Linked DNA regions of Homo sapiens. The protein of the gene in region 2 interacts with the protein of the main gene of each other region in a pairwise test. Each region holds a gene or a part of one and is shown on either strand. Other genes may lie near its edges.

Evidence for each region.
Region 1: the proteins of RAET1E (region 2) and KLRC4-KLRK1 interact in binary tests that used the Homo sapiens proteins (3 or more experiments, as listed by UniProt).

Annotation. Positions count from the first base shown.
Region 1 is NC_000012.12:10,363,994-10,379,361, reverse strand, and holds the end of KLRC4-KLRK1 (NKG2-D type II integral membrane protein), read left to right. Parts: intron 1-656; coding exon 657-808; intron 809-1,126; coding exon 1,127-1,230; intron 1,231-5,225; exon of another isoform or gene 5,226-5,327; intron 5,328-6,130; coding exon 6,131-6,248; 3' UTR 6,249-7,009; downstream 7,010-15,368. Other genes in the region: KLRK1 (NKG2-D type II integral membrane protein), read left to right, coding at 657-808, 1,127-1,230, 6,131-6,248.
Region 2 is NC_000006.12:149,891,326-149,906,927, reverse strand, and holds the start of RAET1E (retinoic acid early transcript 1E isoform 1 precursor), read left to right. Parts: upstream 1-8,814; 5' UTR 8,815-8,907; intron 8,908-10,688; exon of another isoform or gene 10,689-10,795; intron 10,796-10,797; exon of another isoform or gene 10,798-10,895; 5' UTR 10,896-11,082; intron 11,083-15,602. UniProt on the Homo sapiens protein: Binds and activates the KLRK1/NKG2D receptor, mediating natural killer cell cytotoxicity.

The DNA.
Region 1 (15,368 bases), on a different chromosome or scaffold from region 2:
AAGGAAAAAGTAATTAATTCTAGTCTGTAATACACTATGGCTTCTGTTTTCCTTTTAACAATGAGGGAATACTTGTAAAAAGTAGAGGCTACTTAGGTTTGACATCATCTTTCTCTCTCTCTCTCTCTTTTTTTTTTTTTTTTTTTTGAGATGGGGTCTCACTCTGTCACCCAGGCTGGAGTGCAGTGGGGTGATCTCAGCACAATGCAACCTTCGCCTCCCAGTTTCAAGCAATTCTCATGCCTCAGCCTCCCAAGTACCTGGGACTGCAACCTCTACCTCCTAGGTTCAAGCAATTCTCCTGCCTCAGCTTCCAAGTAGCTGGGACTGCAGGCGTGAGCCACCACACCCGGCTAATTTTTGTATTTTTAGTAGAGGCAGGGTTTCACCATGTTGGCCAGGCTGGTATCAAACTTCTAACCTCAAGTGAGTCACCTGCCTTGGCCTCCCAAAGTGCTAGGATTACAGGCATGAGACACCACACCCAGCCTGGCTTCTCTCTATGAATATGTAGAGATATGCCTTTGGTTATGACTGTAATAATTTAATAATCTGAAATTTTAGAGTTGGAGTGAAAAAGGCATTTAATTTGTCTAGACAAAATCTGCTATAATGGTTCAGATGTGTAGAATTAATAATATATTCTCCTTTTCCAGAAAGTTACTGTGGCCCATGTCCTAAAAACTGGATATGTTACAAAAATAACTGCTACCAATTTTTTGATGAGAGTAAAAACTGGTATGAGAGCCAGGCTTCTTGTATGTCTCAAAATGCCAGCCTTCTGAAAGTATACAGCAAAGAGGACCAGGTTGAGTATTTATTTTAATTTCCCATCCTGTATTTAATCCTAACATCTGAGACAACTCACTGGAATATGAACCTAGAACATATAAGGGACACTGTGACTTGGTTATTCTAATACCAACCCTAAATCTTTCTTCATTGAAAATAACAAAGCACAGAAATTGTAGGTATCATGTATGTGTGCTCGGATGAGAATTATGCCAGTTAGTGGACAGAATGCATTTTTTTACAAGTGTGAGAACAGATGAAATGGTTATGGTCTTGCGTTTACTAAAATTATCAACACTGATTTTACTTATAGTTTATTTGTGGTTTCAAACAGGATTTACTTAAACTGGTGAAGTCATATCATTGGATGGGACTAGTACACATTCCAACAAATGGATCTTGGCAGTGGGAAGATGGCTCCATTCTCTCACCCAACCTGTAAGTCTCTGACCCAATGAGTCTCTTCTTTTTAATTTTTTTCCTAAGTTTTCCCTGTAATAATTCTAATCACTCATCTCACATAATCCCAGGACATTTGCACATTCTAATAGATTTAGTAAAAAGTGCTTAGGCCCTAAATTTGGGAGAAAGTTGTATTAGTTGTAGAGCAGCCAACACAAATACTAGTAAGTAATACAAATTGTTTACTATATGGTAAGTACTGTGGAAGGCAGGTCTAATATGTTCGTTTTACAGATAAAGAGACAGAAACAGAGAGGTTAAATATTACATACATTTCTTTTTGAATTTATTACCAGACATGTTGAGATATAATTAACATATAATAAATTGCACATATATAAAGTATACAATTTGATAAGTCTCGAGAACTATATGAGCCCATGAAAACATAAAGAACATCAAGATAGTTAACATATAAATTACCTGGAAAACATTCTCTAAGCATGCACCTTTGTGATTTCTCCTCTGTGTCCCTATGTCCTTACCTCTTTCTCTTTCCAGTCAATCAGTTTTCTGTCACTTTAGATTAGTTTGCAATTCATAGAATTTAATATAAATGAAGTCCTACAATATATATCATTTGCAATGTCTTATTTTCACTTAGAAAAGTTATCTTGAGATTCAGCCATCTCATTGCATGAGTAAAGAGTTAATTTCCTTTTATCTCTTCATTTATTGATGTATATTTAGGTAATTCCCAGTTATTGATCATTACAAATAATGCTACTTGCTAATAATATTTGTGTACAAGTATTTGTATCATATTAACGAAATCTTTCTTTCCCTTAACATAAACACCTAGAAACAAAATGGCTGAATCATATAAGTATATACTTAACTTTTTTTAAAGTGCCACACTGTTATCCAAAGTGGTGATGATATTTTACAAATTTTACTTTCTACCTAGCAGTATGTAAGAGAAAATCTGACAGAGAAGTTGCTTCACATCCTAGTCAACACTTGTTTTGATCAGCCTCTTAAATTTTATACTGGCTGGGTGCAGTGGTTTATGCCTATAATCCCAGCACTTTGGGAGGCCGAGGCAGGCAGATCACTTGAGGTCATGAGTTCAAGACCAACCTGGCCAATGCAGTGAAACCCTGTCTCTACTAAAAATACAAAAATTAGCTGGACGGGGTGGCAGGTGTCTGTAATCCCAGCTACTCGGGAGGCTGAGGCAGGGGAATGGCTTGAACCCGGGAGACGGAGGTTGCAGTGAGCCGAGATTGCGCCGCTGCACTCCAGCCTGAGTGACAGAGCAAGACCCTGTCTCATAAATAAATAAATAAATAAATAAGTAAATTTCAGACACACTAAATGATGTGTTTTGGTATATGAATGTAGTTTTAACTTGCATTTTACTAATGCAATGATGTTAAGTAGCATTTTTTTGTGTGTGCTTATTTGCCATTTAGGTAAAAATTTTCTTCTCACTGATTTCTGCTTTGATCTTTATTATTTACTGTCTTCTTATAGTAGGTTAAATTTGCTTTTTTAGTTTCTTATATTGAAAGCTGATATGTTGATTTGAAACCTTTTTTTCTAATAAAAGTTATACTATTAATATGTGAGATGATTTGGCAACATCCCGTCATATTTTGAGATACTACTTTTTGTTTCCATTCAGTTAAAAATAGTTTCTAAATTGTCTTTTGCATTCTTTGATTCATTGATTATTTACATGTGTCATTTAGTTTTCAACATTTGTGAATTTTTCAGACATTTTTATTATTGATTTCTAATTTAATTTCATTTTCATTAGCGAATTATTTTGTATAATTTAAAACTTAAATTTATTGACATCAGTGTTATGGACTAGACTATAGTGTGTTTTTAAAAATGTTTTAGGTGTATTTGATCAGAAATGTTTATTCTGCTGTTTTCTATGTATTCTATGTGATAACCTTTGAAATACAAAGTTTTGTAATATGGCTGGTAGAAACAGGCAAAATACTAGACCCTATGTTAGCACTAAGTATTGTTTACCCTAAATCTTTTCAGACAGTTCTTTCTCCATCCTGGAGTAGTTTTTTACATACATGCATTAGTAAGTACTCTGCTGAATATTCAAAGGTGACCTTCTGCATATCTTTACATTTCTTTATTTCTTCAAATCTCTTATCTCCATTTCTGTGTCCGGTGAACTACAGCTTGGTCTTTCTGGATTCTGAAGTGTCCCATGTCTGTAGTTTTTATAGCCTGCTCTTTTACCCACTTGATTGCACAGAGCAATTCAGCACACCCAGACTAAGTGACAACATCTTAATGTTCACTGATCTTATGAATATAGTTGTAATTCTCCAGATTAATGCTAGAGTATTCAAGAAAGGTCATTTCTACCATTTGAAAGATCTGACCTGTCACTACACTGTTCAGTAATTTCTTCATTCAGCTACAACGATCAGGAATGAAACCTAAGCATTTTGTCACTACTGCTTTTCCTTTTTTCAGTCTCATAATATCACAAATATTGCAGAAGTCCTCTAGATTGTAAATATTATAATTCTTTATTTCAAGGGGACTTTAGATATTTGAATTTCCAATTCTTCAATGTAATAAAAAGTCACAACAATATCAATGTTAAAATTAGGTTAATTAGGTGCTTCCTGTCTGTCAGACACAGATTTAAGCACTTAAATGTATCCTTTCATTAAATATACTTAACAATCCTGTATACAGGTGTTATTTTAACCTAATTCTAATGGTATACAACAGAATCTTAACATGTTAAATAACTCACTTAAGTTACAAAATGAATAATTGTTGCAATGAGGACTCAAATATATATATTTCTGGCTCTGGAGCCAGACTTACTATTAAATGACTAAAAAAGTGCTCTTTTCGCTGATTTTTAAATTTACTTTGCTACTTTAATGATTAATTGGCAATGATCAATGCACAACCTTTTACTCTCATGTGTTATTTTCAATTTTCCCCTTGTGTTTATTGTAGCAAGAACTCCCTACCTTCCTTCCTTATTATCTATTTGTAATTTGGAAGCCCCAGTATACCTTAGAATTGATCCAGGATGGCCTCATTTATGTATGGCTTGAGAGTTTTTTTAACAGAAAAAACATTGATTCTCTAAAAAATAAGAGTTTATATCATAGTTTCTCAATATTTTCCTATCTACAAGGACAAAATTTTTTTTCAGAAGCAAAACAACTAGCATACTAACTTTCTGTTTATGCATGTAGTAAATATTGGTTGATTACTGCACAATTTCCAGGAATTATGCAGAGATAACTACAGAGATGAGTAGAATAAAACTCATTTTAGAGCTTCAAACTCTAGTCAGAGATGTAGTTACAAACAAATAATCCAGTGTAGTTAGTTAGGTACTCTGGCAGAAGTGTAATGAAAGTAGTATGAAAAAACAGAGAAAGAAATCGAAGGAACACATGGACAAAGTGATATTAAAAAGAATGAGGCCGGGTGCAGTGGCTCACGCCTGTGATCCCAGCACTTTGGGAGGACCTGAGGTCAGGAGTTCAAGTCCAGCTTGGCCAACATGGTGAAAGCTCATCTTTACTAAAAATACAAAAATTAGCCAGATGTGGTGGCAAGTGCCTGTAACCCCAGCTACTCCTGAGGCTGAGGGGCAGCAGAATTGCTTGAACCCAGGAGGTGGAGGTTGCAGTGAGCCGAGATTGCGCCACTGCACTCCAGCCTGGCTGACAAGAGCAAAACACTGTCAAAAAAAAAAAAAAGAGAGAGAGGAAAGAAAGAAAAAAAGAACGAGACTCTAATGTAGACTGAACCTAGTAAGAGCAGTTATTAAAAAATCTCAGCTGGGGCCGGGTGCAGTGGCTCACACCTGTAATCCCAGCACTTTGGGAGGCCGAGGTGGGTGTATTGCTTTAGGTCAGGAGTTTATAACCAGCCTGGCAACGTAGTGAAACACCATCTCTACTAAAAATAAAAAAATTAGCCGGATGTGGTGGCACATGCCTGTAATCCCAGCTACTTACGAAACTGACACAGGAGAATCACTTGAACTTGGGAGGCAGAGTTTGCAGTGAGCCGAGATTGAACCAGTGCACTCCAGCCTTGGCAGCGGAGCAAGATTCTGTCTAAAAACAAACAAACAACAAAACAAAAACTCTTTAAGAATAGTTTTCTCCCTACAGTGGCCGATTGTTCAGTTACAGAACAGAGATCATTACATCGTCTTTTTAAATAGGGATAGCATCAGACCATAATCTTTTTATTTTTTTGTCAATTTTACATTGAAGTGACATCCTCACTCTTTCTTGAGCTTTCTATTTCCCATCTCTTATGAAAGAAAACAAAGTATCATTATTAATCATATAACTCCAAAAGATTAAAGATGCCAGAGTAAAACACATATATAGATATAGAAATCTCCACATGGAATGCCTAAACATATGCACACACACACACACACACACTTATACACACTTGTGAATGTGTGTATGTATGTATTAGATTTGAAATTTTATTTTCATTTCCTTACCAAGTAAAATTGCATATATCTGAAGAAAATGTTTTATTTTTCCACAAAACACAGTATCAAATTCTAAATTGAACACTGAATTTATTTCTCACTTAAATATTTGTTTTAAAATAAACATTCTAAAGTTTTCATTTAACTTGGGTATACATATGAAGAGATTTTAGACTTCAGAATTGGCTAGTTTCTGATGTATGATAAAAAGAGTGGCGCATTATTTATAATTTTTATTTTTATTATCTGAGTTGGCTATATTTTGTTTATGAATTAGGACCAGGCATGGTCCATAATCTCCTAAAATGGTATTAAGTTCCTGTATTTGAAGTTCAATAGGTATGATTCATTTTTATTTTCCCGCGTTAATAAAATCATGTATGTAATTTGTAATTGTCTCTCCTCTAGACTAACAATAATTGAAATGCAGAAGGGAGACTGTGCACTCTATGCCTCGAGCTTTAAAGGCTATATAGAAAACTGTTCAACTCCAAATACGTACATCTGCATGCAAAGGACTGTGTAAAGATGATCAACCATCTCAATAAAAGCCAGGAACAGAGAAGAGATTACACCAGCGGTAACACTGCCAACTGAGACTAAAGGAAACAAACAAAAACAGGACAAAATGACCAAAGACTGTCAGATTTCTTAGACTCCACAGGACCAAACCATAGAACAATTTCACTGCAAACATGCATGATTCTCCAAGACAAAAGAAGAGAGATCCTAAAGGCAATTCAGATATCCCCAAGGCTGCCTCTCCCACCACAAGCCCAGAGTGGATGGGCTGGGGGAGGGGTGCTGTTTTAATTTCTAAAGGTAGGACCAACACCCAGGGGATCAGTGAAGGAAGAGAAGGCCAGCAGATCACTGAGAGTGCAACCCCACCCTCCACAGGAAATTGCCTCATGGGCAGGGCCACAGCAGAGAGACACAGCATGGGCAGTGCCTTCCCTGCCTGTGGGGGTCATGCTGCCACTTTTAATGGGTCCTCCACCCAACGGGGTCAGGGAGGTGGTGCTGCCCCAGTGGGCCATGATTATCTTAAAGGCATTATTCTCCAGCCTTAAGTAAGATCTTAGGACGTTTCCTTTGCTATGATTTGTACTTGCTTGAGTCCCATGACTGTTTCTCTTCCTCTCTTTCTTCCTTTTGGAATAGTAATATCCATCCTATGTTTGTCCCACTATTGTATTTTGGAAGCACATAACTTGTTTGGTTTCACAGGTTCACAGTTAAGAAGGAATTTTGCCTCTGAATAAATAGAATCTTGAGTCTCATGCATATCTTGTTTGATGATATTTAGATAAGATTTTGGACTTTAGACTTTACAATTGATTCCGTAAAAAGCTAAGACTTGGGGTTATTAGAATGGAATTGTTTGAAATGCTTGTTCCCCGGTGTCATAAAGAAATAGGACTTGAACATAAATTTAATTTATTTAGTAAGGCCATTTTTTACTTCCTGCAGAAAGGGTACACTCACTAGCAGTTCTGCCATGAGAGTACACCGAACAAAGGAGACAGGGTCATTTATAACCTGACATGTCCACACTACTGCTGTGTCCGGTTTCCACTGGCTGGAACGGGACCTCACATTCTGTATTTGTCCCGATTGGCTAGCAACTTAGAACTTTTTAAAAGAGGCAAAGGTAGAGGAGAACAAAGGAAGGAGGAAGTAACTTGTGGAATGCTGAGAAAGATAAAAACACTTTTAAATAAGGAAGAGGAACAGGCTATGACCTAACGCTTGCTTGGACCAGTATAAGCATGCCAGGGCAAATATTTAGGAGCACAGGTCTTTGAATAAATTTTGCTTCTAAGAGAAGTTACTGTTTATTTCTAATTAGATGGGGAGGAAAGTCTTTGAAGAGGAACCTCTACTTTACTTTTTACAATATTCCCCCTTTTTTTATTTCATAATTCCTCCTCAGTCTTGTTTAATATGTTTTGACTTAATTCTTTGTCCTTCTAAGAGAGGTAATTTTTTTTCAATAGGGTGGAGGATAGTTAGGAGTTAACTCTGTAAGAGCAGCAGAGACAAGTTTTTGCATAAAACCTTGAAGGCAGGGCATAATATAACAGTCTACAAGAATAAGTACACCAATAGTAAGGGCAAACGAGGTGAGAATTGAATTGAAGTTAAATTTTTTTTTAATTTATGGTTACCTACCAGACCAACATGGATTTAAATTTTGCAGCTATTTGATTTTTGTGCTTTAAACTTATTTGGCACTTCTCACGGACCTTAATAACATTTACGTAAACCTGAGGATTAAAGGACTCAAGGAGTTTCCTTTGGCCTGCGGTGTTTTGTTTTTACCTTTTTAGATTGACGAAATGCCAGCGTGAAGCGGATAGCCAATTGGATTAGAGCACAAGTACTGCTCCAGTTATTTGGCCGAGTGTCCAGTAAAGGTCTTCCACAGTACCACTATACATTTGCTTGGGGATGGCTAAGCATGGACTGATGGGCAAGTTCTTGGAAAGGCTTGGGCTTCTTGTATCCTTTTATGCTTTCAAGGAACGCCAAATTTTCCTCCTGCCATGAGAGGCACAAAGTAAACTTGGCATTTAGAGGTGGAAGCTGGATTGCCCTCGGAGGCTGACCCGCAGGGTGTTGAATTTCAGGAAATAGCAGAGAGCGCTCAGTATGATGGATTATCCCAAGCAGTGGGATTTTGAAAAAGAACCACCATACACTCCATATCTGGATGACAAGGAGACCATCCAAGTGGAAAGGAGATAATCTGGGCCTCTGGCCTACCGTGTGTACAAGCGTAATAATCGCTTTTATTTAAAGTGTGAATGGATTATTTAATCCATTTCAGCCAGGAATTTGCATCTTGATATTTTGTCTTGATGGCTAAGGTCTGTCTTAGATATCTTATTTTTACAATAGACACCCTAGTTTTATTAGATGTAGGAGCAACTGGTGTGGGATCTAGAACTGAGGCTACTGAAGAAGGGGGAGATGGGGGAAAAATCCATATTTTAAAAATACCTAGGGGGTCTTTTCCATTTATGTCAATCCCCATACCACAGAAGCGACTAAGGGCAGGTCTAGAGTTAGTTAAGGTGGAGGTGGTGATAAAGAGAAGGACAGGGTTACACTGATAAGGCTGACAGTGAGAAGGGGTAGTCCTTTTAGTGAAATAGATGAGGGGTTTTAGATTTGCACAAACCTTTTTCGTGGAAGTCCAGCTTTGCTCCTGGGTAGTTTAAGGGATGTGGTCCCATTTACTACAAGGTTGCCAGCCTGTAGGAGCAGAAAATCAGCATCTTGGCTGCAGGTCATTACAACAATGACTGCTAGGGGTACCTGTGTCAGTTAGAGGGCTGGGACATAAATATTTGTGTGAAAAGGCTAGCTGTTGTTGATATTTTACATTTCCACAAGGTATGACAGAGCAAGAGTTAAAGGCAATGGTCTGAGGTGAGTCAGACTTAGTTACATTAATAACAACGGAGCTAGTAACAAAATACGGAAAGGAAAGGAAGCGATATAGAAGGTATATGAAAATTAAGCTTTCTTTAACTTTAACTTAGTAGGGCTTAATCCTAGTACAGTAACCCATGATTCTGAGAGGAAGATGTTTTCTTGACTCGAGTATGGTGGGACCATTTTTTTCTTGGCTGTGCGGACGGCAGTCTCAGTGGTTAATAGCATAAAATAGGGTTCTTCCCAGGCTGGCTTGAGTTTTTTTTTCTTTCTATCTTTTGATAAGGATGTGGTTTTCAGGCTGGTGCTGGTGTACTGGAAATTCTAGGGGTGCTACCTGTGCTAAAAGACTTTTAGCTCCAAGGGAAGGGAAAGTGGAAGATAGATTAAGTATATAATTTCTGCTGCATATCCTGGGGCTTGAGGCCTCATGGTTATGCCCCTTGCTCTATTCCTGCTCAGCGCTGCCCAGGAGACACTGTGGCCCTGCCCCCTCTTAATGTTTGGCCTTCTTATGGCCTTCACCACCCTGCACTCTGTGGCCTTGGGGATGAGGGTCCTTGTGACTTACCGGGTTGCCTTTAGGCCTTAAGAAAGCCAAACACCATTTTATATTTGACAATGTTTTTGTATGATTTTATACCAGATAAGTTAAATTTTACCATTATATTAATGTGCTATTGATGTTCAACTTAATTTTAATAAAATCTTGTAGACATTATTTATCCAATTTTAATGTCTAACTATAAGGTAAGACTTTTATAGATTCTTTAACTTTTTATAATTTTTGTTAAAGAGCAGGTTAGTGCTTTAAGAAAAATCTATAGTGATTTTATTGTAATATCCAGTTCACAGAAAAACTGGATGATACCCCTTTAACTTTAGCCAATATGTTAACACACAGAATTTCCTTTACAATTAACATTTTAAAACTTGCTTAAATCTTTAAAACAGAAAAAAAGTTTAGCCTTTAATGTAGGTAAAAATCTGTATTCTTATGCCTCTTTATAATCCTGTTATTAAAAGTATTTTTTTACATACCTTGTACATAAACTTTTTTTAATAATTTTACATTCAGGAGGCCTGTTTTTCAGTTATACAATATTTTTTGCATAAATTCCCTTTTATAGCTTTTCTTATGACTTTCACAGACAATCTTCAGCATGTCTTAACTTTCTGCCTTCCTTTTTCACTATTTTTCTAGTTTCACTCTCTGTATCTTCCTTTGATTTCTGTCTCTTCCAGTTTCTCTCTTACTTACTCTTTCCCTCTATTTCTCTCTCTCTCTCATTTGCGCTCTATTTTCCTCTCTCTCTCTCTCTCTCTCTCTCATCCTGTTTCCCTTTCTTTTCCCAAGTTCTCCTGCTCCTGCTGCGAGCCCTGCTGGGCCATGGCACGGGCCCCACCCCCACGCACACGCAGCTGTCTGTTTCTCCTGTGTTTTTTATTTTTCCTGATTTCCCTTTTTATATTTTTTCCTTTCTTTTTACACTTAGTTTCTCTGGCTGGGTGGGTGGGATTTGCCCGGCTGTAGTCTGGGCCCCAGGCAGTCACCGGCCCAGAGGATTGGCAGATGCCTGCCGCAAATTGCAAGAATTATGCCCTTTCACCTCCTCTGCTCTCCTCCCGGCACCAGTCCCCAAGCTCTTTGGGGAGAGGGACTTACCCCTTGGCGTGCCTGCCTGGCTGTTTGGCTCTATGCTTGCTGTTTTTGCTTTCTTTCCCTCTGACTTCCTCTCCTAGTTTTTTTCTTTTCTGCTGGTCTTTCTTTTTTCTCCACCTGTAGCAGGATTGATAAGGAATCAGGAACACCAAGGGGTTGAGGAGGATTTTTATTATTTAGGTGCACTGGCCCAGTTGGATTAACATCCAAATGACTGAGCCCTGAACAAAGAGTCAAGTTATCTTTTAAGTATTTTGTCTGTGGGGGAAGATTTGTGCAGGGGGAAGCATATTACAGAAGCAAGAAACAAAGACAGTTATTCAATTGAGACATACATTACATTGTTTCTTACTTTTCAAGGAAAAGCATGTTTTATGACTTGAGTTTGTCTGTCTAGTGACCTTGCAGCTGCACAGCTAGAGAAACAGGGTCTTCACAATGCCTGGGAAAGGGAGAGATAAGGCTCACTAGCCACGGAAAAACAGGCAGTTAATTTTTAAAGGACTCCAGTTCTTTCTCTTCCTCAGGGGGAATTGGGTTTTCTTACATACAACTGAGTTTTTGCTTACACATTCTTTAATTTCTTTTAATTCCTGTTCCATTCCCCCCTTTGGTGCTTTTTATAACAAATGTGTTAACAGAAAGCACCACTATTTGCCACGTCTTCGTGGAGCTGAGCTGCTGCTTCTACCAGCAGCGACTGATATCTGGTTAATGCCATCATCTGCATGGTAGTGTATCAGGCCACTATTGCCTCCATAGTTGACTGAATACTTCTAATAAACAGGGGTAAAAGGCAAGGGAGGATGAGGCAGATGCCAAGAATAACCAAGAACCCACCAATGAGGCTTTTGAATCCTCTAAAGGCTGAGAACCATCCTCCAAACAAGGAATCCGGGGACCACCCAGACCAAGTCTGAACTGGAATATGGGCCAATGTGTGCATTCTAGCGGTGATTTCCATGACAGCTCAACCATTATCATCGATTTCTAGGCAACAGTTGGTTAAATTAAATTTTCCACATACTCCTCCTCCTGAGGCTAAGAGGTAATCTAAAGCCAATCTATTTTGATATATAGCATTCCTCATTTCTGTTGTTGTATTTTTTTCCATGTGAGTTCCTTGGTGGAACTCTTTTAAAAATCTGGGGGCCACCATTTCAGGTATGGCTAGCCTCCCATTGGATAATATTTACCATCTCCTTTTAATGTAGTTTTTATTTTTCTGGGCAAAATAAGCCCTTTCATTTGGAGTGTAGCTTGGGATATCCAGGAGAGGAATCTCTGGGAGGAGAGGCATAGCTAAGGCTTCCTCTTTAAAAGGTGGAGTTGTCATTGCAGCCTGCTTTGCCTCTTTGTCTGTTTTCTTATTTTATTTTATTTTTTTAGCCTTTAGTATTCTTCCTTTTTGGTGCCCCTTGCAGTACATCACTGCCACCTTTTGGGGCCTATACAGCATTTAAGAGCTCTAGAATTTCTTCCTTATACTTTATTTCTTTACTTTCAGCAGTTAAAATTATTTTTTCTTTGTAAATAGTCTCATGAACATGCAAAGTGGCAGAAACATATCTGGAATATGTGTAAATATTTGTCTTTTGGTCTTTGGCTAGCCAGAGAGCTCTTGTCAGAGCTATTAGTTCTGCTTTCTAAGCAGAAGTTTTTGTAGGCAAAGACTGCACCTCTACTACTGAATCCAAAGTCACCACTGCATACCCAGCTTGGCGGACTCCGTTTAGTATGAAACTGCTTCCATTAGTAAAATATTCAATGTCCAGGTCCCTGAGGGATGTATCTGTCAAATCTCTCTGGCTTAAGAACACTTCATCTATCACATTTACACAGCAACGAAGGGGGTCTCCTGGCACTGACTCGATGAGGAGCAAGGTAGCCGGGTTTAGGGTATTCACCATCTCTAAAGTCAGTTTATTAGCTTCTTGTGCCAGTAGGGCAGTAGCAGCTAGTGCTTTAAAACAAGGAGGCCATCCAAGTGCCACAGAATCTAACTGCCTGGATAAGTGTGTCACTGGGCAATGCCATGACCTTATGGCTTGAGTTAGAATCTTTATGGCCTCCCTTTCACTTGTGGACATTCAAGAAGATAAGCTTAGTTAGTTAGATCTGGCAGTCCTAAAGCTGGGATCTGAGTCAAGGCTTCTTTGATTTTTTGAAAAGCCTTCTTCTGGTTGGCCTCCTAGAGGAGGAGTCCTTCTTTCCTCCTCTTTGTGGCTTTGTATAATGGCTTAGCCACAAGCAAGAAATTTGGGATCTAAATGCGGAAGAACTTTGCTGCCCTTAGGAACTCTGTTATTCGACGCCAGGTGGTTGGAGTAGGAAGTGCACAAACAGCCTGCTTTTGTTCACTACTAAGCCATCTTTCCTCTTGGCTTATGTAAAAGCTTAAGTACTGGACACTTTTCGAGCAGATCTGAGCTTTTTTCTGACCCTTTATATCCTGCCTTTCACAGCAGTCTTGGGTTTCTCCTGGGTGCAGTAGCCCTTGGCCAGTGGTTTTTTCATACCATGGCCTTGACCATTCTCCTTATTCTTTTGACATTTATCCTTCTAGTGTCCTTTTCTTTTGCACCATGTACATTAATCTCTCTCTAGCCTTGGCTGGCTTTCAAATTGCTGTCCAGACTAGCCTTTTCCACAACTGCATTCACACCCGCATCTATGCCTCCTTGCAAAGCCAGCCTCTCTTCCCATAAGGGCTGCTGCTTGTAAATAAGCCTTTATTAAGCCTCCAATCAGCTTTCTTCTTTGCCTCCTGGTCTCAGTTAATGTACACCTTGGTAGCCACTTTAATAAGCTGAGTAGCATTCACACCTACGGAGCTTCTAACTTCTGCAATTTATGCCTGATATCTCCTTGGGCCTGCCTTACAAATGCCGTATTTACTATTCACTGATTTTCAGCAGCCTCGGGGTTAAACAGAGTGTACAAGCAAAATGCCTATAAAACTGGCTGGTGCTTTTATCTGCACCATGGAGCACTTCTGAGATTTTTTTATATTGGTTGCCTTTTCCTTTTAACATCCTTTAGCCTTTGTAAAAGTGCTTCTCGGCACTTTTGTAGGTGCTGAAGCTGGACTGCATCGTCTGGGTCCTAGTGGGGGTCTGCTTGTCCTCTTAAGAGGCAGAAGCATAACTTGGGCATGACTTGACCTGAGACGGCCTGCCTACCTTTTTGAGCCTTTCGTTTTAACTTCCTGGAGCTCCGATTTCTCCTTCTCAGGTGAGAGTGGGAGCATGTATCTGTTTGAACTTACCTCCTTAGGGGCAATTAGCCTTGGTAAGGGGGGATAGATTGGAATATAGGTAGGAAGGATCTCTATTCCATCCTGTGATTCTTGCAAAACTGGTTTTCTCTTTCCTGAGACTCTTTTTTTTTTTTGGTCTGCATAGCTTCCAGGGCAGCTGACTTTCACTTTCACTTTTGGATCGGTGGTGCTAGAAGCCTCTGTGACTTTCCCTTTAACTCCGTAGCTGCCAGCACAGTTGGTTTATCTCGGCGTGAGCTGCGAGCATTCTACAATAAACTGCTAGGCAGGGCTGCGTACATTTAGCCATGAGTCAATATAAAGACTAGGTCTGAATGCCCTGGCTGTCCTCCGACCCTAGTCACCACCTTAAAACACACGGCCAATTTCTCTACAGTGCCTTCGGCCAGCCATCTGACACTAAAAGAGGGCTATTGTAATTCACAGTATGTCTTTAACTTTTGAACATCCAGTTTCATCCCACAATCACCTCTAAATCCTTTCTTTAAAATTTTTATCATGCACTCCAAAGGAGTTGGTTTTGACGCTTTCCCTCCCATTTCCTCCCTTGCGGCACACTCTCACTCTCACTCTCACTTTCACTCTCAGGTCCAGCAGACCCGGTCCTATTACAGGAGTTTCGGACACTGCTTAGCCAGGAAGGTGTCTTCCCCTGTCACAGCCTGCTACAGCTGCAAAGCTCGTCCTATCAGCTGTATGCAATGTCCTAGGTCTGATTTCCCCCCACACTCGCCTCAGAGCACACAGCCCGTGCTAAGGGATCTGTGCCTCCCCACGTCACTCCCTGCATTGGCCTCTCCCGAGACCATCGCTTTCACACACTTTCACACACCTTCCTTGCCCCAGGATTCCTCATTGGACGAAATGAGCCTCTCTCATGTCCCGGGTGAGTCTAGTTAGGCTCCCACTTTCACACACATACACCACTCCTACTGCAGGAGTCCTCATCGGATGGAATGAGCCTCTCTCATGACCTGGGTGAGCCTAGTTAGGCTCCCATATTCACACACATACACACACCACTCCCAGTTCCTGTCTCCAGATCCAGTGAACCACTTTCACTTTGTTAGTGGGGACATAAGCTTCATCCAAATTGGCAGGCCACTCCTGCTGCCCCCAGCCACTCTGGGTTGGATTAGTGGTCAGTCCCTGGGAGGTGATCAAGCTCCCCTTTGTCCCTATGGGACGGGCTTTCCTGCCTTGGGCCTATACTCCTTACCACAGTTCCTGAAGTGCTGGTATCGTCCTGCAGCCCCATC
Region 2 (15,602 bases):
TGACAGAGACCAAACAGGTTGGCTTTATTCCACTGTCCTCTAGTCGTTGGAGACTGCTTTCCAATACTGTCCAAATGTCACCTCCATCTTAGAGACTCCTTCTGGGAAAGATGACTTTGTAGCCAACAATTAGGGAGAAGAGAATAGGAAGCAGGAGAAAGAGTTAAAGTGCTGCACAGAAGCTTCCATCCACAAGAGGAGCACGCCACCAAAGCAGCTGTAGAATACACAGTATGGCAAAGGGCTGGAGTCCAGCCTGTGCTGTCTGAGAAGGCATACCAAGCTCAGAACCAGGTCCCACCCAGAGAAGTAGTCCAGTCCCCCTTGTCATTGAGAAATAGCCAAACCCAGTGCGCTAGACAGAGACCACGTACACCACACTCTCTCGCAGAAGCTGTCCAGGGAAGAGATAGACCAACAGGATGATCTGCAGACCATCCTTGGCCAGAGCCCTAGACCAAGGAGAGCTGGGCAAGTCCATGATGTCCAATCAGAGCTGGGCCCAGGGTTCATGTCTTGAACATCAGGAAGCCCCCAAATGCAGTGCCTCGCTGGTTTCTGTTTGTTACCAATGCCTGGGTTAACTCCAACCACACTCTCTCACCCTTTCGCAGCTCAGCCATGGCAAAGGTGGCTGCTGTGCTTCCCGCCCAGGGTCCCTGATGGAGCCCTCCAAACACCAGGTGCCTGGTTCCTGGCCCTGGGCCAAATTCAATGCTCACTGCAAATGGGACACCAAACTCCGGCTTGGTAGTAGCCATGTTCAGGGAAGTTGCTGCTGTCAGTGTCGATGTAGCTAGTGTTGAACTTCCATGTCTGCAGGGCAGCTGTCCTTTCTGAGAAACTGGCATAGAAGGCCACAGGGGAGCCTGCCTGCCAGAGCTCAGTGTTCAAGGCATCTGGCACTGGCCCTTTGATGTGTGTGTCTGGCAAAGGCTCAGCTTCTTTCCTGTCCCTCTTCCGGGGAACTTCTGGGCCTTTCTGCTTCTGCTTCCTTTTCCTGCTGGGCACGGTTTCCAGCTTCCCCAGATTTAGGCTGACACTGCTGTCACCAGCTCTTGGAAGTTTCCAAGGAGGAGCAGCTGGTGCAGTCCAAGCTGCACTCGGAGGCGGACCATGGAGGCCCCGAGGCAGGTGAGAGAGGTGGCTGGGCAGCCTTGCAGCACCACCCGAGCCACTGAAGTCAGATCTCAGGAGCTGGAGCTCCTGAGCCAGCCCAGCCAGGGCTTCACACAGCTTCTTCTGGGCCCAAGTGGTCGCCAGCTCCAAGTGCTCTGCCGGCCATGGGGGCTCCAAGCCACGGCCCACTCGTGGCCTGCTCCAGGGCTGCCACCCGGGTAGCCAGCGAGTCCCAACCGAGCACCTGCTCCTTCAGGGCCAGGCAGATCTGCTCACGGGCAGGGGAAGCTGGCCGTGCGCCTCCTTTGACCTCTCCTCCATCACCTCCTCCCCAGAGAGGGAGGCCAGCAGGCCTCCATCAGGGCAGCCTAGGAGCTGTGCAGCTGGCGCCGCCATCCAGGCTCCCCTGGGTCTCCTTCAGGGTGCGTGGTGTCCCCGTGGCACTCCCGGACGGCCTCCAAGTGAAAGTAGAGCTTGTGGCAGCTGCCTCCTTGACATACTTGATGAGGTCAGTGTGGTCGCCCCACAGGTGCTGCAGGGTGAGGCTGAGCTCCAGGAGCTGCTACTCCACCTCCACCTTGTTTGCCTCCATAATTAAAGGCTTCATCAGGACCACACACAGCTCACAGAGCGCCCTGTGGTTCACCTCCATCTCTGGCTCCATTTTGCTGATCTGATGGAAGGTCTCGTCCAATTCGGAGCACAGCTCCTTCATCTCATCCACGTGCCGGGTCAGGGTAGCCCTCATATCCCTGAGGGGTGTTTTGCAATTCCTCCTCCCTGCAGGCTGAGTCCATGTGCAGCACCCAGAGGTTCCTCTGCAGTTGGCCAGCCTGGCCTGCAGGCTCTCCAGTTCAGGCCTTGCCCCAGCCCCTGCCGTCATCAACACGCAGCTGCCATTAGTCCTTGGGGCCTCCTGGGTTTGGCCTCTTCAATTTGGTGTCCACATCAGCCTGGACCTCAGAGAGGGAGTGTACAGGGAAGAGCACCGAGCATGCCGTCAGTCCTCCACATCCTTTCACAGCTGGCCCACTCTCTGAGCATTTTCCTGGATCTTGGCTTCAAATTTACCACCAAGCTCCTGGCAGTCAGCCCTGGCCACAGCACTATCCTGGACCATCGTGATGGCCTGGTGTTGGCCTCCACATCAAGAAACAGATTTGTTATGTCCGGGGAAAAGCCATGCAAGCTTTCCTTTAAGCTCTTTCAGATGGGGCCGAAATGCACTTGCAGGAAGGTGTCCATGTGGGGCAGCAGCACCTGCTCCAAGGATCTACCAGACAACTCCAGCTCTGTTTGATTTGCCACACTGCAGCTGTGAGGTTACTAGCCAGGGCTTTCCACGGGCCTGGTAGGCTGTCACCTGGGGGAATGTCATCCTGGAGATCTCCCAGGAGGGATTCCTGCTGCTCCTGTTGCACTTCAGCCTCATTGATCTCCACAGCCAGGTGGCGTGACTTTAACTTCCTGGCCGTCTGGAGCACCCTGTGGACATGGCTGCTGTGAGTGGATGTAGAATTTCTCTGTTTTGCAAGCAGCTGTGAAGGTAACCAGCTAGGACTTCTGGAAAAGCATTGTTTTCACAGCCCCTTAATCTCAGGCTGGCTCCCTCTTTGTGCCTTCCCTTGGGGACCCCTGCTGGGTGCCCTCATCTCTCAGTGAGCTACTGAGAGGCAGGTGCCTGCCCAGAGTGTATGTGAAGCTCCTGCAGTCTGATTTGGGCCTGCACTTGGCCTGCCATGGCCCCAGCCTGCTGCCCTGCCACAGCCAGGAGCCATTTCAACCGTTTTCAAATGTACAGGCATCTATTTAAAATGGCAGTATCTGTGCCTGCTCAGGCAATCCTGAACCTTCTTAACCTGAACTTTTTCCTCCTAAAGCAATGACCACTTTAAAACAGACAGTGTTAGCTTTTGATTGCTATTGTAAGAAATTACAAATTTAGTGGCTTAAAATAACACAAATTTGTTCTCTTACCATTCTAGAGATCTGAAGTTGGAATGGATCTCAATGGGCTAACATCACTGTGTTGTCAGGGCTGTTATTTCAGGAGACTCTCGGGGAGAACCTGTCTCCTTCTCCCCTTTTCCAGCTTCTCCAACTGCCCACATCCATGGCTCAGGGCCCATTTCCCCATCTTCAAAGGCAGTTCCATCAGATTAAGTCCTCACTGTGCCCCTCATCTGGTTCTCCCTCTTCCGTCTGCCTCTTCCTCTATAAAGATCCTGTGATTACATTGGAACCCCAGGGAAATCCAGAAAATCACCCCGTTTCCGGGGCAGATGATGAGCAACCTCAACTCCATCTGTAGCCTTCACTCCCTTTTCCATATAACCCAGTGGGGGGTTCCAGGGATTCACACCGGCATCCTCTGGGATTGGCGGGAGTGGGTGGGGGTGGCAGGTGATTATTCTTTGCAAAACACATGCCATATAATTTATGTATATATCATTTTTATACCACAAAGATGGGGGAAGAAGCAGAGCAATATTGGAGCAGAGATTTTGCATCCTGTTAAAATTAAGTTGGTTTTAATATGATCTAGGTTGTGGTAAATTAAGATATTAATTGGAATCCCCTGAAATGACTAACAAAATAACTTTTTTAAATAAAAAATGAAAAAGAGACAATAAAGGAAGTAAAATGATGCAGTAGAAAATATCTGTTTAACACAAAACAAAGCAATAGTGGTGGAAAAGATGAAGAAAATGACATAGTGCATATGGAAAACTAAGAAAAAGGTGGCAGACGTAAATTCTGTTCCACCTTAGCAGTAATTCCCTTACATGTCAAAGTGATAAACATTCAAAAGAAAAAGCAAAGATTCTCAGAATGCATTTAAAAAATGATCTAAAGATACAATGTAGATCCCAAGATACAAGTAGTTTAAAAGTAGACATATGGAAAAGATAAAACACATCCATAGTAAACAAAGACAACTGAAATTGCTATTAATAATATCAGGCAGAATCATCTTTAAGACAAACAATTTTATAAACATTCTAAGAACCAATCAACGAAAGGGAAACTCACAAGGAAAATTAGAAAATACTTTGAGATGAATGGAAACAAATACACAGCATACTATGATTTATAAGAAGCAGATAAAGCAGCACTTAAAGGAAAACTTACTGCTGTAAATGCCAGTATACTGAGAAAGAACAGGACAAAGAAAGGATTATGTCAAATTAATAACTTGATATTTCACTTTAAGAAACTCAAAGAGCAAAGCGACCTAAGCCCCAAATAACAAATGGAAGGAAATAAAAATTGGAGTGTAAATAAATGAAATAAAGAATAGAAAAACATTGGCAAACTCAATAAAACCAAAAGTTGGTTCTTTGAAAAGATCAACCAAATTGTCAAACCTTAACCTAGAATGACTAGGTAAATGGTGGAGGGATAAAACTCAAATGACTAATACCAGGAATGAAAGAAGAAACATCCCTACCAACTTTACAGAAACAAAAAGGATTATAAGGGAATACTATGTACAACCGTATGTCAATGAATTCAAGAACCTGGATGAAATGAACATCTTTCTTTTCCATTTATTTTCCAGTTATTATTGAGCCACTTTTGATTGTATCCTCCCTTCTCTACCAGAAAGGACAAAGGTTGATCACCAAAGACAATTTCAGACTCTTGTCAGGCCTAGGGACAGCAGCAGAGGCACCACAAGCTTCTCTGATGCCATAGATTGGCCTTCCCATGATCTGCCACTTCTCTAGACGTTTATTGTTTTCTGTTGAAGATGCTGGAGCTCTAAGCCAGCACTTTAAGGATTACTTGTTTTCTCCAGGTGTTTCCTGTGTATATACAAGAGACGATAGATAGATAGATAGATAGATAGATAGATAGATAGATAGATAGATAGATAGATAGATAGATAATAAACTCCTGTTTGTTTGTTTTTTTCATGAAAATCATTTTTCCTCCCCGCCGTACAAAGGCTTGTCAAAGGCACACTAATGAGCAGCTGATTGGGCTCCTCCAACCGATGAACTCTGTGTTTGGCTCTGTTTGGAAACACACTGAGGAGTCCAGCCTCTTTGGCTGCCACAGGATACATTTCCAGAAACACCTGTTAGGCGTCTGTGGATGAGGAAGGCATCAGGCCTTCCTACCTGAAGCCTTATTGACTCCTGCAAGTGCTAAAGAAACCCCTGGGGACAGGCTAGGCTGCCTGTTCCTACTGGATTTTAGGCCTGGAGACTTCTGGTGGGGGCAGCCCAGGCAGGGAAATCAGGAGCTGTGGACAGGGAGTGGAGGAGATCAGGAGGGGATGGCAAGACCCCCAGCCTGACCCCAGTCCCCAGTGCCCTCTAGCAGCAGAAATAGGAAAAGGAGGTTGAGGGCAGGCAATACTGCAACCTCCTGTGCTGAGCATACAGATAGGTCCAGCCTGGTGGCCCCGCACCTGCAGATTCAAGGCAGCCCTGCCCTGCACTAACCCTGCACCTCCCAGGCCCACTGCTCTCCCACTGTGACCCCATCCGGAGACTGGTCTATCTAAAGACCAGGACATTGACCAGCAGCCCAGTGCTCTGCTCCACGGCCTCTGTCAGGCAGGACGGAGCTGGAGCCCAGGCAGAGATAAGGACAGGGGAAGATGGCCCTTGTCAGCCAGGGATGTTCTGTCCTGCTGGGCATGCGGCCTCTCTCACAGAGAACCTACGTGATCTTGCTTCCCCCACTTTCTTATCTCATAGGCCCTACATATTTGCCAGAAACACCTGCATTCCTAACTCTTTGCCAGATGTCAGGGGCCAGCCGCCAGGGGAACTGCGTGGCAGAGCCCCTGTGCCAATGGCCAGAGAAATTCAGGAGTTCCCAGAAAACAGAGGGTGCTGGAAATCCAGGTGGGAGAGCTGCTCCTTGTGCCAAGATTTTCCTCAGAGGCTCCTTCTCCGGTGCCCTGAGCAGGGCCAAGCCTGGCGAATATTAGAATTTCTGCTGGGCTGAGAAAAAACAGCAAAAGGAGAAGCAGTCTGGGGGGTGACTTGGAGGTGGAAACTGGGTGCGGTCAGAAAAGTGAGTGGAGCCTGGAGGCCAATGAGCACCCCACCCTGGCAAGTCACAGCAGGACAGGGCAGGGGACCAGGCATAGAATTGGGCCAGTTGTAACCTGCACAACCTGGAAAAGGATTTGTATTTGTATTTCATGTACCCATTGGGTAAGGTGGCATTTATCTCCAGCTTCCTTGAGGTGAGCTCAGTTTAGGAAGTTTCTTTTCGACTGAACTGTGTCAGGAATCTCGCCAATGCCTGATGCTGCCCACCACATCTCTTTTGCTGCTGCTGTGGCTGGAACCTGCCTGGGAGGCACCGGCTGTGAAGGCTGGAGACCCAGGGAGGCTGCCCTGACACCTCTCCTTGTTCCCTGAGCCAGGGGGCCCATCTGAGCCCCTTCACCCCTGGGGAGCTGTTTTCTGTGCCTTGTATGAGGTTTTTGTCTTCACAGAAATGGCATTCTAGTAAGAGATAGAAATTTTAAATGGATAGATATGTAAATTATATGGTATGTGTGTTGGGCAGAAGAATTCCCTCTCCAATCCTCAGGATGGCAGATCCAGTCCCTGGAACCTCTGTGTTGGGGTACATGGAAAGGGCGGTGAAAGCTGTGGATGGAGCTGAGGTGGCTAATCAGCTGCCCTGGGAAAACCAGCCATGGAGGGGTAGTGTTCTCATGTAAACCAGGACTCAGCCTGGTGGAGCTGCCTTTGAAGATGAGGAAATGGGGTCCTGAGCCATGGACGTGGGCAGTTGAGCAGCTGGAAAAGGCAAGGAGGAGACAGGTTCTCCCCGAGAGCCTCCCAAAGGAACACAGCCCTGACAGCACAGTGATGATAGCTCCGTGAGACTATTCAGACTTCTGAGCTCCAGAATGGTAAAAGAATGAATGTATGTTGTTTTAAGGCACTAAATTTGCAGTAATTTGTTGCAACCACAATTAAAAGTTAATAAGGTTTGTTTGATTGTTTGTTTATAGGGATAGAGTCTCATTCTGTTGCCCAGGCTGCAAAGCAGTGGCGTGATCTCGGCTCACTGCAACCTCCGCCTCCTGGCTTCAAGTGATTCTCCTGACTCAATAAGCTGAGTAGATGGGATTACAGGCACTGGCCACCACACCCGGCTAATTCTCTTATTTTTAGTAGAGACAGGGTTTCAACATGTTGGCCAGGCTGGTCTCAAACTCAACCTCAGGTGATCCAGCCTCCCTGACCTCCCAAAATGCTGGGATTACAGGTGTAAGCCACTGTGCGCGGCTTACTAAGGTATGTTTTAAAGTGGTCATTGCTTTAGGGGAACAAGTTCAGGTGAAGAAGGTCCAGGATGGCCTGGGCAGGCAGAGGTCTCCCATTATGAAATAGAGGCCTTTACATTTAACAGTGGTTAAGATGAAAAATCACGTTACATGAATCATACCACAATTTTAAAAAAAGAAAGAAAGAAAGAAATACAAGGGTTCCAAATGCGAGGGGCAGGGAGAACCAGGCGTGGAAGGGTGTGCCACCTGGGAGCAGGAGTGGGAGTGAGCCGGGCAGATGCCTGAAGGGCAGTCCATGCTGAAGGGAGGGCAATGCAAAGTCCCAAGGCACGGGGACATCTGCAGGGCTCTGAAGACCAGCAAGGAGGCCGAGGGTGGAGGTCGGAACTGAGCGAGTGAGGGGGCATAATGGACAGCTGGCCAGACTGTGCAGGGCTCTCTAGGCATCTGTAGTGACTTTGGTTTTACTGAGAGAAAAAGGGCACTTTTGGAGAATTGGAGCAGAGGGGGGCGTGAGTGATGAGGTTCTGAAGATCACTCTGGCTGCGCTGTAGCCATTTGGGAGGTGGGGACAGGCACGGAGAACCAAGTAGGGCAGCACTGCAATCACCCTGGCCAGGAGGACGGTGGCCTAGAACCAGGGTCGAGTACTAGATGACAGTGTGGTCAAATCATAGATATTTTATTTCTAGTCCAAAGAAGAGATAAGAAAGAGGTCGAGCAAATAGGTGATTTTTTTTTTAAATTATTCACAGCCTTATAACATAACCTCTAAATCTTCAGTAAAGTTGGCTACATTCACAAGTAGCTGGTGTCACTTTGGTGGGGGCTTTGTAAGGAAGTGGGCAGGGTGTCTTTTAAGGAAGACTCAGGAGAAGTGCTGGTCTTCCAGTTGCAGAGGGGAATGGAGTTGCAAGAAGAAAACAGCGAGGTTCAGTGACACACAGTGCGAACACGAGCTCAGGGGGCAGGAGCTCCAGGTCTCAAGAGGGCAGGACGATAATGCAGTGTTTGCACAGAAACCAAGCAATAGAGGGAGCCAGCACCCACCAGAAATGAGGTAGGGCCGCTGTCACAGCTATGCCAGGACCTGCAGAAGCCTAAACCCTGAAAAAAGGTGGGGGCCCCCACCTACATATCAAGGAAAACATATGTATGCCATCACATGCTGGTCTCCAACAACTGCTAAAATTACATTAAATCCTTTCTAGAATTTCGTGGCTGGGACTTGAGTCTGGTCTTGGTCCTTCTACTGATGGTGAATCCAGTACTGAATTGGATCCAATTCTGGACGAGTTACCCTGTCCTAGAATCACTCACACGTGACAGTTGACAGGTGGCCCCACCCGGTTTGCATGGTGGACGGGTGTTCTGCTAGGCCGGCCTCTCCACACCCAGAGAGACTGAACTGGTTTCTGCTCCTCAGAGAGTTTGCACAGAGACTCTGAGGAAGCAGTCACCTCAGGCCTCTCCATCCTAGAGACGGCAGAAGGACAAACATCTCCTGCTGGCACAAGGTAGGGGGTGGGGGATGGCTGGTGTTCCAAACACCCGTGCAGAGGGAACGTGTGCATGTTTGGGAGTGAAGGAGGAAAGCAGGGGCTCGAGTGGTGAGAGAACCAGGGGCAGATAATGAAGTAAAAGTGGGGTTGGGGGAGATGCTGGGGGTGTGGCGGCGGGGACGCTGGATAAGGCAGGGAGGACGGGGTGGCTCTGCGGGTCCTCTGCCTCCACACCAAGCACTCAGGGATCCGTGCCTCCTTCCAGTCTGGAGTCCCAATCGCCCCTCTCTCCAATTTGGGGGACAGGGATTTCTCCTTGTTCTCCTGCCCTAACTCCTTCTTTCCGACTTCTCTTGTCCCATTCTCCCTCAGATCCTCCCTTCCGCTTATGCCAAGGCTTCCACAGCCTCGCTCTGCCGGGCCTTGGCATTCCTAGCCTGAGTGTTGAAACCATTGGCCGGGACCTCAAGGCAGCTGGGGCAGGGAGAGGACGGTTAGAAGCCCAGGGCACACTGCCACAAAAAGGCTGTGACTCATTTTCAGGGATTGAAAACTGCAGTCCAATTCATTTTAAAATTTTCGTCTCTCTTTGGACTTCAGGCTGAAAGTTCTTTATAGCAACGGGCTTCCAGGGACTATGTGAAATTATTGGTTTCACTTTCCTTATCACCCGCTTCTTACTTCAATTAAAATTCCATTTCAGCCGGGTGTGGTGGCTCACTCCTGTAATCCCAACACTTTGGGAGGCTGAGGGGGGAGGATTGTTTGAGCCCAGGAGTTCGAGATCAGCCTGGGCAACGTGATGAGACCCCATCTCCACACCAAAAATTTAAAAATTAGCTGGGTGTGGTGGCTCATGCCTGTAGTGCCAGCTATTCTGGAGGCTGAAGTGGAAGGACTGATTGAGCCTGGGAGTTCAAGGCTGCAGTGAGCCGTGCTCATGCCACTGCACTCCACCTGGATGACAGAGCAAGACCTGGTCTCAAAAAACAAAACAAACAAAAATCTACTTCATATGTAACCATTACTTCAGTTTTGAAACCATTGCCTGAAGCTGACATTTTGCAGTTGGAAAATGGCTATTCCTTCCCATCTTCAGGTTGGCTCAGGCCAAGCTGAGATTCAGGACCACAGAGGGCAACAAAGGTGGAAGGGCCCCTTTCCCCTTTCTGTATATTTTTCCCAGCCTGTCTGCAGCTCTTTCTTTTTCTTCAGTGTTAGGTTGGCATCCCAGATGTCAGGACCCAAGTATAGGCCTGGTGTGCTCCTTCCTGTGAGTCATCAGACTTGTAGAAAATATTGGCCCTGCTAAGGAGCTACTCAGTGGTCATATCACACATATGCACGCACACACACACAAGCACCCATGCACACACACACACACACACACAAACACACACATACACTCTGTTCTTGGCCCACCCCCGCTGGTGTCCCCACAGCAGCAGTATTGGCAGGGCGGTAGCAGTGAGTTCCTCTCTGTGTACTCTCAGGGCCTGGATGTGTACAGAACAGGCTCCACTCAGGACAGATTTGAGACCCCTTCTCCAGACCAAGAGGTGGAAGTGCACCCTCAAAATTGAGGTTCTTTAACCTTAGCAGACAGAGAACCACATAGGGGACATGTAAAAAATGTGCATTCCTCGGCTCCTTCAAACGCTTGACCCACTGTCCTCTGAGCAGACAACCCCTTATCCCCCAGCCCCAGAGATAGAGCCCTGCCGATAGTCCATGGTTACTTTCTTTGAAGTCTGTTCCATCTAGTTAAGAAAGGACAGTGGTAAAGACCCACTTACCTTACCAGGCATCATAAGGGCCCTAGCATCTGAGTCACAGGATGTCACCCTCTGGGTCTGACATGCACTTGAATTAACTGGCATACTGCCCGGCACACAGAGGGAACCTAGATGTGGAACGGATATGGGTGGTGTTACAGGCCGCATGTTTGCCTGCCTTCCAAATTCATATGCAGAAATCCTAATTCTCAAGGTGATGCTATTTAGGAAGTCATAACTCATGTGAGTGGAGCCATGTGGGATTAAGAAGTGATAGGAGAGCTTGCTGTCTGTCTCTGCTCTCCACTGTGTGAGGATACAACAGGAAGACAGCCATCTGGTGAGGAAGAGAGGGCCCTCGCCAGATACCGGACCTGCTGACACCTTGATCTTGGACTTCCCATCTTCCAGGAAGGTAAGAAATAAATGCTTGGTGTTTCAGCCACCTTGTCTATTCTGTTGTAGCAGCCTGAACTGGCTAAGGTAGCAGGGTCTGATGATCAAATGGGACAGCTGTAAAAGTGAGGTGGGAAGGGGGTCTACAGATACTAAGTTTTATGAGGAAAACTTGTGCTTTATTTGAAAATGACACAAAATTTTGTTCTAAGAAAAATTTTCAGAATTCAAAACTTAGAGCCCTAAGACTTTTCCCAATGATAGACTTGGCTTTCCTTGAGGTCTTGGCCCCAGTAGGACTGCTGGAGTCTATTACAAAACTCATCTGGAAGGACCTCTGCCGTTGCTGAGGCTTGAGGAAATGGTTTTAAGGTCACAGTGTAAACAAAACTGCTGGGAAGTTGGAACTGGGCGGAGCCCACTGCAGCTCAGCAAGGCTGCTATGGCCAGACTGCCAGATTTCTCCTCTCTGGTCAGGGCATGTTGGTAAACAAGGCAGCAGCCCCAATCAGGGGCTTATAGCAGACTTAAATGTCCCCGCCTGATGGCTCTGAAGAGGGCAGCAGACCTCCCAGCACAGCATTCGAGCTCTGCTAAGGGTCAGACTGCCTCCTCAAGTGGGTGCCTGACACCCACGTATACTGACTGGGAGACACCTCCCAGTAGGGGCCGACAGACACCTCATACAGGAGAGCTCTGGCTGGCATCTGGCAGGTGCCCCACTGGGTCAAAGCTTCCAGAGGAAGGAACAGGCAGCAATCTTAGCTGCTCTGCAGCCTCCGCTGGTGATACCCAGGTAAACAGGGTTGGGAGTGGACCACCGGCAAACTCCAGCAGACTGGCAGCAGAGGGGCCTGATGGTTAGAAGGAAAAGAAACAAACAGAAAGGATTAGCACGTCCCCTCAAAGACCCCATCTGAAGGTCACCAACATTAAAGACCAAAGGTGGATAAATCCACAAAGATAGGAAAAAACCAGTGCGCAAAGCCTGAAAATTCCAAAAACAAGAACGCCTCTCCTCCTCCAAATGATCACAACTCCTCGCCAGCAATGGAACAAAACTGGACAGAAAATGAGTTTCACGAACTAACAGAAGTAGCCTTCAGAAGGTGAATAATAACAAACAACTCCAAGCTAAAGGAGCATGTTCTAACAAATGCTAGGAAGATAAGAACCTTGAAAAAAGGTTAGTCGAATTGCTAATTAGAATAACCAATGTAGAGAGGAACATAAATGACCTGATGGAGCTAAAAAACAGCATGAGAACTTTGTGAAGAATACTCAAGTATCAATAGCCAAATCAATCAAGCGGAAGAAAGGATATCAGTGATTGAAGATCAACTTAATGAAATAAAGAGAGAAGACAAGATTAGAGAAAAAAGAATAAAAAGGAATGAACAAAGCCTCCAAGAAATGTGGTACTATGTGAAAAGACCAAATCTACATTTGATTGGTGTACCTGAAAGTGACAGTGAGAATAGAACCAAGTTGGAAAACACTCTTCAGGTTATTATCCAGGAAAACTTCCCCAACCTAGCAAGGCAGGCCAACATTCAAATTCAGGAAATACAGAGAACATCACAAAGATACTCCTCAAGAAGAGGAGTTCTGAAACTATTCCAAACAATAGAAAAAGAGGGAATCCTCCCTAACTCATTTTATGAGGCCAGCATCATCCTGATACCAAAACCTGGCAGAGACACAACAAAAAAATAAAATTTCAGGCCAATATCCCTAATGAACATTGATGCAAAAATCCTGGCAAACCGAACCCAGCATTACATCAAAAAGCTTATCCACCACGATCAAGTTGGCTTCATACCTGGGATGCAAGGCTGGTTCAACATACACAAGTCAATAAACGTAATCCATCACATAAACAGAACCGATGACAAAAACCACATGATTATCTCAATAGATGCAGAAAAGAACTTTGATAAAATTCAACACCACTTCATGCTAAAAACTCTCAATAAACTAGGTATTGATGGAACATATCCGAAAATAATGAGAGCTATTTATGACAAACCCACAGCCAATATCATACTGAATGGGCAAAAACTGGAAGCGTTCCCTTTGAAAATCAGCACAAGACAAGGATGCCCTCTCTCACCACTCCTATTCAACATAGTATTGGAACTTCTGGCCAGGGCAATCAGGCAAGAGAAAGCAATAAAGTACATTCAAACAAGAGAAGAGGAAGTCAAATTGTCTCTGTTTGCAGATGACATGATTGTATATTTAGAAAACTCCATCATCTCAGCCCAAAATCTCCTTAAGCTGACAAGCAACTTCAGCAAAGTCTCAGGATACAAAATCAATGTGCAAAAATCACAAGCATTCCTATGCAACAATAACAGACAAACAGACAGCCAAATCATGAGTGAAGTCCCATTCACAATTGCTACAAAGAGAATAAAATACCTAGGAATACAACTTACAAGGGATGTAAAGGACCTCTTCAAGGAGATCTACAAACCACTGCTCAAGGAAATAAGAGAGGACATAAACAAATGGAAAAACATTCCATGCTCATGGATAGGAAGCACTAATATCGTGAAAATGGCCATACTGCCCAAAGTAATTTATAGATTCAATGCTATCCCCATTAAGCTACCACTGACTTTCTTCACAGAACTGGAAAAAACTACTTTAAACTTCATATGGAACCAAAAAGGAGGCTGCATATCCAAGACAATCCTGGGCAAGAAGAGCAAAGCTGGAGGCACCGTGCTACCTGACTTCAAGCTATACTACAAGTCTACAGTAACCAAAATAGCATGGTGCTGGTACCAAATATATAGACCAATGGAACAGAATGGAGGCCTCAGAAATAACACCACACAGCTACAACCATCTGATCTTTGACAAACCTGACACACACAAGCAATGGGGAAAAGATCCCCTGTTTAATAAATGGTGTTGGGAAAACTGGCTAGCCATATGCAGAAAACTGAAACTGGACCCCTTCCTTACACCTTATACAAAAATCAACTCAAGATGGATCAAAGACTTAAACATAAGACATAGGACCATAAAAATCCTAGAAGAAAACCCGGGCAATACCATTCGGGATATAGGCATGGGCAAAGACTTCCTTTCTAAAACACCAAAAGCACTGGCAACAAAAGCCAAAATTGGCAAATGGGATCTAATTAAACTAAAGAGCTTCTGCACAGCAAAAGAAACTATCATCAGAGTGAACAGGCCACCTACAGAATGGGAGAAGATTTTTGCAATCTATCCATCTGACAAGGGGCTAATATCCAGAATCTACAAAGAACTTAAACAAATTTACTAGAAAAAAAACAACCCCATCAAAAAATGGGCAAAGTATATGAACAGACCCTTCTCCAAAGAAGATATTTATGCAGCCAACAGACATATGAAAAAATGCTCATCATCACTGGTCGTTAGAGAAATGCAAATCAAAACCACAATGAGATACCATCTCACGCCAGTTAGAATGACGTTCATTAAAAAGTCAGGAAATAACAGATGTTGGAGAGGTTGTGGAAAAATAGAAACACTTTTACACTGTTGGTGGGAGTGTAGATTAGTTCAAACATTGTGGAAGACAGTGTGGCAATTCCTTACGGATCTAGAACGAGAAATACCATTTGACTCAGTGATCCCATTACTGGGTATATACCCAAAGGATTATAAATCATGCTGCTATAAAGACACACGCACACGTATGTTTATTGTGGCACTATTCACAATAGCAAAACTTGTCCATCAATGATAGATTAAGAAAATGTGGCACGTATACACCATGGAACACTATGCAGCCATAAAAAGGGATGAGTTTATGCCCTTTGCAGGGACGTGGATAAAGCTGGAAACCAACATTCTCAGCAAGCTATCACAAGATCAGAAAACCAAATACCACATGTTCTCACTCATAGGTGAGAGTTGACCAATGAGAACACATGGACACAGGGAGGGGAACATCACACACCAGGGCCTGTCACGGGGTGGGGGGCTAGGAGAGGGGTAACATTAGGAGAAATACCTAATGTAGGTGATGGGTTGATGGGTGCAGCAAACTACCAGGGCACGTATATACCTATGTAACAAAACTACACGTTCTGCACATGTAACCCAAAACTTAAAGTATAATAAAAAAAAATTTTTTTTTGTAGAGATGGAGTCTTACTATGTTGCCCAGGCTGGTCTTGAACTCCCGGCCTCAAGTGATCCTCCTGCCTCATCCTCCCAAAGTGCTGGGATTATAGGCATGAGCCACTGTGAGGGCCTGGCCATTTCAGTTTCGTTAATTAGCATCTATGATAGTGCCTGATACATGTAGTAGACACTCTGTGTTTATTGAGTGACTCAATATGTTTTATTACAATTACACACACACACACACACACAAAACCCATCTGTCATGGTAGACCACTTGCTGCCTGTTTGCAGCTAGTTTAATTAATACTGGGGTGTGCTTGGTGAGAGAAAATCTCAACCATTTAAGAGGAAAGAGTTTGAACGGGTTAGGGACAGTGGGAGAGGGGAGAATGGCGATGGGAGAAAATA